Regions from separate parts of the Homo sapiens genome. Here region 2 is linked to region 1. The links come from fine-mapping of genetic effects on gene expression. A gene starts in region 1. The other region holds a variant in brackets. All regions are shown on one strand. Distances are from middle to middle.

Evidence for each region. PIP is the estimated chance that this variant, and not a neighbour inherited with it, causes the effect.
Region 2: its variant is fine-mapped to the expression of PAQR9 in whole blood (TOPMed, PIP above 0.99).

Annotation. Positions count from the first base shown.
Region 1 is chr3:142,961,785-142,966,170 of GRCh38, reverse strand. It overlaps PAQR9 (progestin and adipoQ receptor family member 9), which reads left to right and starts at 2,497. Exons shown (of 1, transcript NM_198504.4): 1 at 2,497-4,386. The coding sequence starts at 2,835. The coding sequence ends at 3,968. PAQR9-AS1 (PAQR9 antisense RNA 1) reads right to left here and starts at 2,113. Exons shown (of 5, transcript NR_125393.1): 1 at 2,073-2,113; 2 at 1,535-1,706. RefSeq lists a silencer at 3,283-3,468.
Region 2 is chr3:142,932,259-142,936,644 of GRCh38, reverse strand. HLMR1 (hepatic lncRNA metabolic regulator 1) reads right to left here. Exons shown (of 5, transcript NR_038455.1): 2 at 3,377-3,440; 3 at 1-222. Among named protein-coding and RNA genes, the nearest start is that of HLMR1, 7.8 kb to the right of the region's middle. The variant G/A (reference allele first, on the strand shown) is at 1,975.

The DNA.
Region 1 (4,386 bases):
GCTGTTTCCTTAGTTCCTTTTTACTGAGCTTTGTCAAGGTATAGCAAGGACAGCTGACTGGGCTCTGCACCAGTGAACTTTCATGAACACCACTCACTCCATGGCATCAACTGGTTTTGTGCCTCAAGCAGGGTAGGGGATGTGTGAGAAAGGACAAAGGCAGATATCACAAAGACTTTTTCAAAGACTTAACATGAAACATTTTTTTTTTACTTTATAAAATACTGATTTTTTAAAAGAACATATTTTATTAGAGTCAATCTCACCATTCTTTGTCATAAAGATATTTTATCTAACTCAAGTTTTTGCATACCCATTTACAGTCAATTCCATTGTTTTGCTTGAAGTGAACTTTCTATTATATTTTTCTAGATTATGTAAGCGAGCTGATTATGCAACTAAGAGTGTGGTAAATATAAGAATTATTATAGGATCACCATTTTTACACGTGACAGCTCTGGTTGTTTGTGGAGTAACAAAGGGAATATGAAAAAAAAAAAAGTTCGGGCCTGCCCTGGATTCAAGTTTATCATTCCTACACTTGATTAAAACACCTAAATTTAATCCATTTTACAAATAGCCATGGGTCCTCAGTCCAGATATAAAAGGAAATTAGATTTCAATTTAAAACAAGCTACAAACAGTGGAAAACCAGAAAACACTAAAATAAGACACTGGCTAAATAACTACAACAAAATCTCACTTCTTAAAAATCCACGCCTAAAAAAAAAAATCCACTAGACAGGAATGTGTGGCAGTGCAGAAAGGCAGAAGACTGAAGCGCACGTTTGATCTAATTGTGTAAGAGCTTGCTAAATCAGTTACTACTTGAAAGTATACTTCAGAGAGAAGACTGAAACTTCTAGACTGTTTCTAGCATCCTTAAGTAACTGCAGACACTTATAATACTGAATGATATCCTAGTTATAAATAATTCTTATCCATAACTTAAATCCATCTTGAGGCTCTACTAAGTAAATCTTCCTTAACCTACTTAGAGGATGTGCAGTAGCGATGAAAGTAGCCTTTCTTTTCTTTTTCTTTTTTTTTTTTTTTTTGAGACGGAGTCTCGCTCTGTCGCCAGGCTGGAGTACAGTGGCGCGATCTCGGCTCACTGTAACCTCCTCCGCCTCCTGGGTTCCAGCGATTCTCCTGCCTCAGCCTCCCGAGTAGCTGGGACTACAGGCGTGCGCCACCACTCCCACATAATTTTTTGTATTTTTAGTAGAGACGGGGTTTCACCGTGTTGGCCAGGATGGTCTCAAATCTCTTGACCTCGTGATCTGTGTGCTGGGAGTACAGGCGTGAGCCACCGCGCCCGGCCTTAAGCCCCTTTCTTTAAGGCTCAAGGGCATATTTTCACACTGCAGTGCATCACAACCGTTTTCATTCTTCCAGTGTTCCTTTCTTCTGGTCTCCAGCCACCTGCCAGGTACTTCTGATTAATTACATATAAGATTTATCCAAGCCACCCCCTCCGTTTCTACCAACTGGACTTCATTCTCTTCAGTTCCTGCTAGAATGCACCTCCTACCTGAAGTCTTCCCTCATCAATGCCCTCCATGATCAGCCTTTGACTCTGGAATCCCTTAATATATTCCTCAGATCATTAGAGGTTTTCTGAGTCATCATCTGAGATTTTTCATTAAATTGTGGAGTTTGAGCAGCCAGTCCTGAGCTGTCGGACTCAGTTCCAAATAGAAGTCCTAGTTAAAGACACAAAAACAAGAAGATGGGTTAGCTGCGGCTCGAAGAGCTGGTGAGCGCGACCACAGGGCAGCTTGCGGACGGTTCTTTCGGACAGGACAAGGGCGAGGGAAACGGCAGAATGGTGACGCACCTGAGTGCGCCCACTAGACGAAAGAAGACCAACTAAGCCTTCGTGTAGTGCGTAGACAGGCCGACACACACACACACACACACACACACACACTAACACACACGCAAAGACAGTGAGGGAGCGAGAGGCGCATCCCCAGGTAGCTGACAATGACACGGCCCCGATCCGGACGCGGGCTTAAAGCCCCCCGACTTCCGGAGTGCCCCCCTCCCCGGCGACCTCCGGAGATTACCGCTGGCGCATCTCTCCGCCCTGCCCGGCTCCGGCGCCCTCCCCTCCCCCCGCAGCCGCAGCTCCCCGCCCCCCGCGAACGCGGCTCCCCAGTGTCCTCCAGAACGCCCGCGTGGCTGTCGGGTTTCGAACCCCAGGGCCGACTCTAGTACTCGGCGCGCGCGCCGCCGCGTCGCCGACCAGCCTGCGGCCCCCGCATCAATCATTAACGGGGCGGCCCGGGCTGCGGCGGCCCGAGGAGGGGGATGGTACGGAACTCGAGACAGGGGACAACTCTATCCCCCGAAGCGGCCGCGAAACCCTAGCCTGGGAGGCCCCCGCCCTTCCTCGGTGCGCCCGTCCCTCCCTCCGCGCCTCGGCTCGCACATCCCCACCTCCCGCTCCGGGGGCGGCGGCGGCGGAGGCACCCGCACCGCGCGATGCCCAGTCACCGCTGCCGCGCTGCCGCCGCAGTCAGCCGCGCCGCCGCCGCTGCCGCAGCGCGGGCGGCCGCGCGCCGGTAGCAGGGGCTTGGCGAGGAAGCCGCTGAGCCTCGCGCGCTCCGCGCTCCTGGCGGTCGCAGCGCTGCCTATTAATTGATTCTCTTATTGATTTATTTAATTTTTAGGAGCGGCTGCTCGGAGGCACGGGTCTTCTCCTAAACCTGCAGCGACGCCCCCGGCGTGGGCACAAAGGCTCCGACGGCGGCCGGCGGGGGCTGCCCAGCGCCCGGGAGCCGGCGCCAGAGGTCGCCTGCGCGCGCCCTAGCCGAGCCCCGGGCACCATGCCGCGGCGCCTGCAGCCCCGGGGCGCGGGCACAAAAGGCCCTCCGGCCCCGGCCCCGGCAGCTTCGGGGGCCGCCCGGAACTCCCACTCTGCCGCCTCCCGGGACCCCCCAGCGTCTGCCAAGCCGCTGCTGCGCTGGGACGAGGTGCCCGACGACTTCGTGGAGTGCTTCATCCTGTCGGGCTACCGGCGTCTGCCGTGCACGGCCCAGGAGTGCCTAGCCTCGGTGCTGAAGCCTACCAACGAGACGCTCAACTTCTGGACGCACTTCATCCCGCTGCTGCTGTTCCTGAGCAAGTTCTGCCGTCTGTTCTTCCTGAGCGGCGGCGACGTGCCCTTCCACCACCCGTGGCTGCTACCGTTGTGGTGCTACGCGTCGGGAGTGCTGCTGACCTTCGCCATGAGCTGCACGGCGCACGTGTTCAGCTGCCTGTCGCTGCGTCTGCGCGCCGCCTTCTTCTACCTGGACTACGCGTCCATCAGCTACTACGGCTTCGGCAGCACGGTGGCCTACTACTACTACCTGTTGCCAGGCCTCAGCTTGCTGGATGCCAGAGTCATGACTCCATACTTGCAGCAGCGCCTGGGCTGGCACGTGGACTGCACGCGCCTTATCGCCGCCTACCGCGCCCTGGTGCTGCCTGTGGCCTTCGTGCTGGCGGTGGCTTGCACTGTGGCCTGCTGCAAGAGCCGTACCGACTGGTGTACCTACCCGTTCGCGCTGCGCACCTTCGTCTTCGTCATGCCGCTCAGCATGGCCTGCCCCATTATGCTCGAGAGCTGGCTCTTCGACCTGCGTGGGGAGAACCCCACACTCTTCGTGCACTTCTACCGCCGCTACTTCTGGCTGGTGGTGGCCGCCTTCTTCAACGTGAGCAAGATCCCCGAGCGCATCCAGCCGGGTCTTTTCGACATTATCGGCCACAGCCACCAGCTCTTCCACATCTTCACCTTCCTCAGCATCTACGACCAGGTGTACTACGTAGAAGAGGGCCTGCGCCAGTTCCTCCAGGCGCCGCCTGCCGCACCCACTTTCTCGGGTACTGTGGGCTACATGCTGCTGCTGGTGGTCTGCCTGGGGCTGGTAATCAGGAAGTTCCTAAACAGCTCCGAATTCTGCAGTAAAAAGTGAGCCTCCGCCTTGGAGGAGACTACTGGTTCGCCCATCTGTTTGGAGTTTCTGTTGTTGCTATTGTTGGTTTGTTTTCAAATTTCATTGTGTTTTCTTCTTTGCTCAAGGAAGGTGCTGCAAAACCATAGGGAAAAAGTTCACTGCTACAAAGGGATCCCAACCCACTGGAGGCTTTGAAGTAGGGAGGTTGGCAGGGGTGGTCAAGCGGGAGGGAGATAGTCACTTGTTCTTGCCCCTGGAAAAAATTCAGGTGATGTCTTTGACATCCAGGGATTTCTCAAAGGCAGTGAGTAAAATCCCAAATAAAGCCCCAAAGAGTTTGCTTTTCCAATCATCTGTGCCATTGGTAATAAGGAGTAGCCCCTGTGAGGTCAGGTACACAGTAAAGAGGGTAAATAGAATCCTTGGGAACTTCTGT
Region 2 (4,386 bases), 30 kb after region 1:
TGTGTGGTGATTCTGCCTCATATCCTCCTGTCTTGATGACCCTATGAACAAAGCCGCAACCCCAAATGATTGTTCCTGTGCCCTGGGGATACTCAGCAAGTAAACTAGTCTGGACAAGGGCCAATTGGGAGCACACCTTCCTGAGCATCTCAGAATCAGATATGGTCCTTGCCAGTCTAGAACACAGACGGCTGGATTCGCACAAGGGTGGGTTTGTGAATCCTTAGGTGACAATGTTGAAGTAGGATTGGGTGGGGTATGGAGAGCACACAACAATTAGAAAGGGTAAGGCAATCCGTCATTCTTCCTACCTGCCTTATCCACAACAAAGAGGGAGATGGAGCAGGCATGATGCTCACCCTCAGCTCCCGGAGAAGCCAGGCTACTAAGCTTAGGTCAGCCCTGCAGTCGTCTCTGTTACTGAAGTCACCACATGCCTATTTCCTGCTACCACCTCCTTGCCAGTGGATGCACTGAGCTAAGTTCAACTTGCACACACCCTGCCCCAACAATCTTTAATCACTCAGTGCACTGAAAACACTTATTGCCCATACTCTTACATCAGTTAGGGCAGTTGTCCCAATCTTTCTGGCACCAGGGACTGGTTTCGTGGAAGACAATTTTTCCATGGACAGGATAAGGGTGGGGGATGGTTTGGGGATGATTCAAGCACATCACGTTTATTGTGCACTTTACTCTTATTATTATTACATCGTAATATATAATGAAATAGTTATACAACTCACCATAATGTAGAATCAGTGGGAACCCTGAACTTGTTTTCCTGCAACTAGACAGTCCCATCTGTGGGTGATGGGAGACAGTGACAGATCATCAGGCATTGATTCTCATAAGGAGCACACAACCTAGATCCTTCACAAGCACAGTTCACAATAGGGTTCCCACTCCTATGAGAATGTAATGCCACTGCTGATCTGAAGGAAGCAGAGCTCAGGCGGTGATGCGAGTGATGGGAAGCGGCTGTAAATACAGATGAAGCCTCCCCTGCTAGCCAGCCCACTGCTGACCTCCTGCTGTGTGGCCTGGGAGTTGAGGACCCCTGAGTTAGGGAGCTTCTGTCTTCAAGTTACAGAAAGTTCAGCTCAAATGGACTTAGACAATAAAAGCGGACATTGTGGCTAATAGTTCTACTGAGGGTTCTCAGTTTACACACTAAAAGTTGATTCTGACTGATTTAGGAAATAACAAATTTGTTGAAAGGATATTAGGTAGCCCAAAGTCTCGATAGGAAGAACCACTTCCAAAATTAGGTCCTAGTACCAGTCTGGTAAAGGCGGTGCTGCTGGTGGACCTACATTCTGTCTTTGGAGGCAGGATACCAACTGCTACTCCTGAAACTGTTGCCACAGGCACTACTGCTGCCACTACAGCTGCCCCGACCACTGAATTCTCCACTGCCTTGGTGACTTCATTTCTCCAACTTGGGATTCACAGGTCGGTCTGATGGCCAAATAGAGAAGGAATGCCCGTGCCTTAGCTGTGAAGCTGCCTGGGGCTGTGACTATATGGTCCTAGCTGTTTCTACACTGGAAGGCATCTCTGCCCCTCAGTGGTATGCATGTGGTGGGATATCCCCAAACCTAGGAAGGTGTTCAGATAAGGTCCTTGCTCATGTGGCATTTACAGTCTTACAGTGAGGGAGACAGACAATAAGCAAGTAAACCAATTAAAAAGATGATAATTTCAGGTAGTGATTAGCATTATGAAGACTATAAGGAACTCCACAAATTCCAACCCTGATGTTGCCTCAGAAGCAGGAGAGGAGTGTACTGATCTGCAAGTCGACGTAAATCTAGGTAAAAACCATAAGAAACCACTGGGCAGAGAGAAAGGGTGGCTGTGACCTGCTGTGGGTAAACCATAGGCTGAGCAGAGAAAGTCACTGTTAGGACATGGTGCAGGCAGAGTTGCAGGCTGTTTCCTCTCTCTAACCACTGTCCTTGGCAGATAATC[G/A]CCTGGCCTGGAACCACCTTGAGACAAAATATCTGCTACACGGAGGTGATGGGATAATATCAGGGCAGTGCCACAGCCTGGCCAGGGTGAGGAACAGATAATAATGGGAGCATCTGGACCCTGAGCAATTCTACCCCCTGTCAAAAGGAGGTTACTTACAAAGGAGTTGTTTATGGAATTTGGGAGCTGACTGTATCCAGAGCAGGGATGAATGCACACTACGGGATACCAAGGATCAGTTAGAAGCAATGAACCAAGTGTACCTACATATATAACAGATACAGATGGGTCTTTAGAACACACTGGTGAATACAAAACATAATAACTAGAGCAAGGTCTATTGCACAATACTATTTGTGAAACATATGATATACCAAATAATAACTTACATTTGACAATATTACATTTTTAGACAAGGATATATATGTAATGCCTTATAGTGAATGAATATGTGAAAGGAGAGGTAACGGAAATGGAAACCAGGGATGAATGGGGAAAATATCCACGAAAGAAATGTAATAATATTATACCATGAACTGAAGTATGTGATTGACTCGATACTTTTCACATGAGGCATAAAAATTAAAGAAACGATGGAGGAGTAGGAGGGAATTTATTAGCTGGTGTTTGGGCTGCAGGTGGAGTGATCAACATTAAATAAGGTGGTCAGAGAAGGCTTCTCTGAAGAGGTGACATCTAGGCTAAAGTCTGAGCAATGTGGCCAGTCATGTGATGGTTGGGGGATGCGCCCTCCAGGCAGAAGAAATAGCTTATGCTAAGACCCTGTAACAGAAACATGACACCATTGAGGAACAAGGAAAAAGACAGGTGTGGTTGGAGCACAGAGAGCACATCGAAGTTGAGGTTTAGTTTTAAAAGATGATCTGGCAAAGCCTTTCCTCATTGCTAAGTCTATACATACAGTTTGGAGTAATCAGTTTCACAGAATTGGTCATTGCTAGGGAGAAGTGAAGTCCTCTCTGGTATTAGGATGACCTGGCTTGACAGGGAAGTGAACTGTGAGCACCAGGCAATCAGACAGTGGCAGAACCAAATTTGCTCTTACAGGTGCGGAAGGAGCCGATTGTCACCACTGGGAAGACAGAAATTTTACTAGGTACAGGCCTGCCATGCTGAGTCCCCCATGCTAAAGGCTGGACAGCCCTTGTGAAGGACTGGCTTGGCAGGGCTTTTGACACTAGCTGTCTTCACTGTGGTCCTGCTTACAGCTTGTGCCCTCAACATTTCCTGGGCAACAGCTCCTAACTAGGACCACTTTCCACATCTATGCCCTCTGGTGCTTCGACTCTGGTCTCCTTCTGTCCTGTTTCCATACCTTGCCAGAAACTCGACATTTTTTGGTTTCCTCCAAAAGAGCACTTTGTGTATCAAAAATACAAACCTTAGGTTTTCACTCCGTCCTGGGGTGTTGACCTCTTATCTGCATGACAAGTGCTGAATTGCTCCTTTTGCAAAAGAAAACAAAAAAAGAACAATAATAAGCTGTTTTTCATGAACAGAAAATCCTTGAGGACAGGGACCTACTCTACCTTGACTCGCATCTAACCTTGTGCCTAGAAAAATTGTTGGGCCCAAGGTAGGTGCTCCATAAAATGGGTTGAATGAGTTCACACACACACACACACAAACACACACACACACACCACATTCTTAAAATGATGAAAAAATCACATCCTGTTTTCTGTTGCAAAAGTTCCAACTAGAATTGATCTTTCCCAAGATAACTAGCATTAATACAGCTTTGCTCAACACCAATTATTGCTCACAAAGAATTAGTTTTCCTCACTGGCACTATTATGGGTCATAATAATAATGTTTATTGAGCACTGGGGATCAGATACTAAATTATCTCATTTAAAACCTATAATAACCCTATGACTTATGTACTATCCCATCTTTATCTAAAAGAGGAGAAAAACTGAAGCCTAAAGAGACTTGGTAACTTCTACGTGATGGCTAGAGCTGGGCTTTTCATCCCAGGTCAGCCTGACTCCAGATCTCTTAACCGAACTTCTGAAACTCAAGCCAATTTTCTATAATGAAATACATTAAAGTTATATCTGAAACAACTACTACTCTTCTGAATATTACTTTTCTTTTGTAGACTAATCATTGGCATCCATATATTTAAGTATTTCTTAGGGAGCTCAATTTTTTCACAATATTGTACATTTAAAATATAATGTGTACAAGACAGCTTGCAAATAAGCAGCAGAGAAAGAATGGAAGTGAAATCTATTCTTTGCACTGAGTCTGTGTTTGCTTTAATTCTAGTTTCCGGTTTTGAAAGTACTTTTTTGTCTATTTTTTCTTCTTTTTCTTTGTACTGATAGTTTAATTACTTATTTTGTGATCATAAAACAATGAGCATTGTGACAATTTTACTGCAGT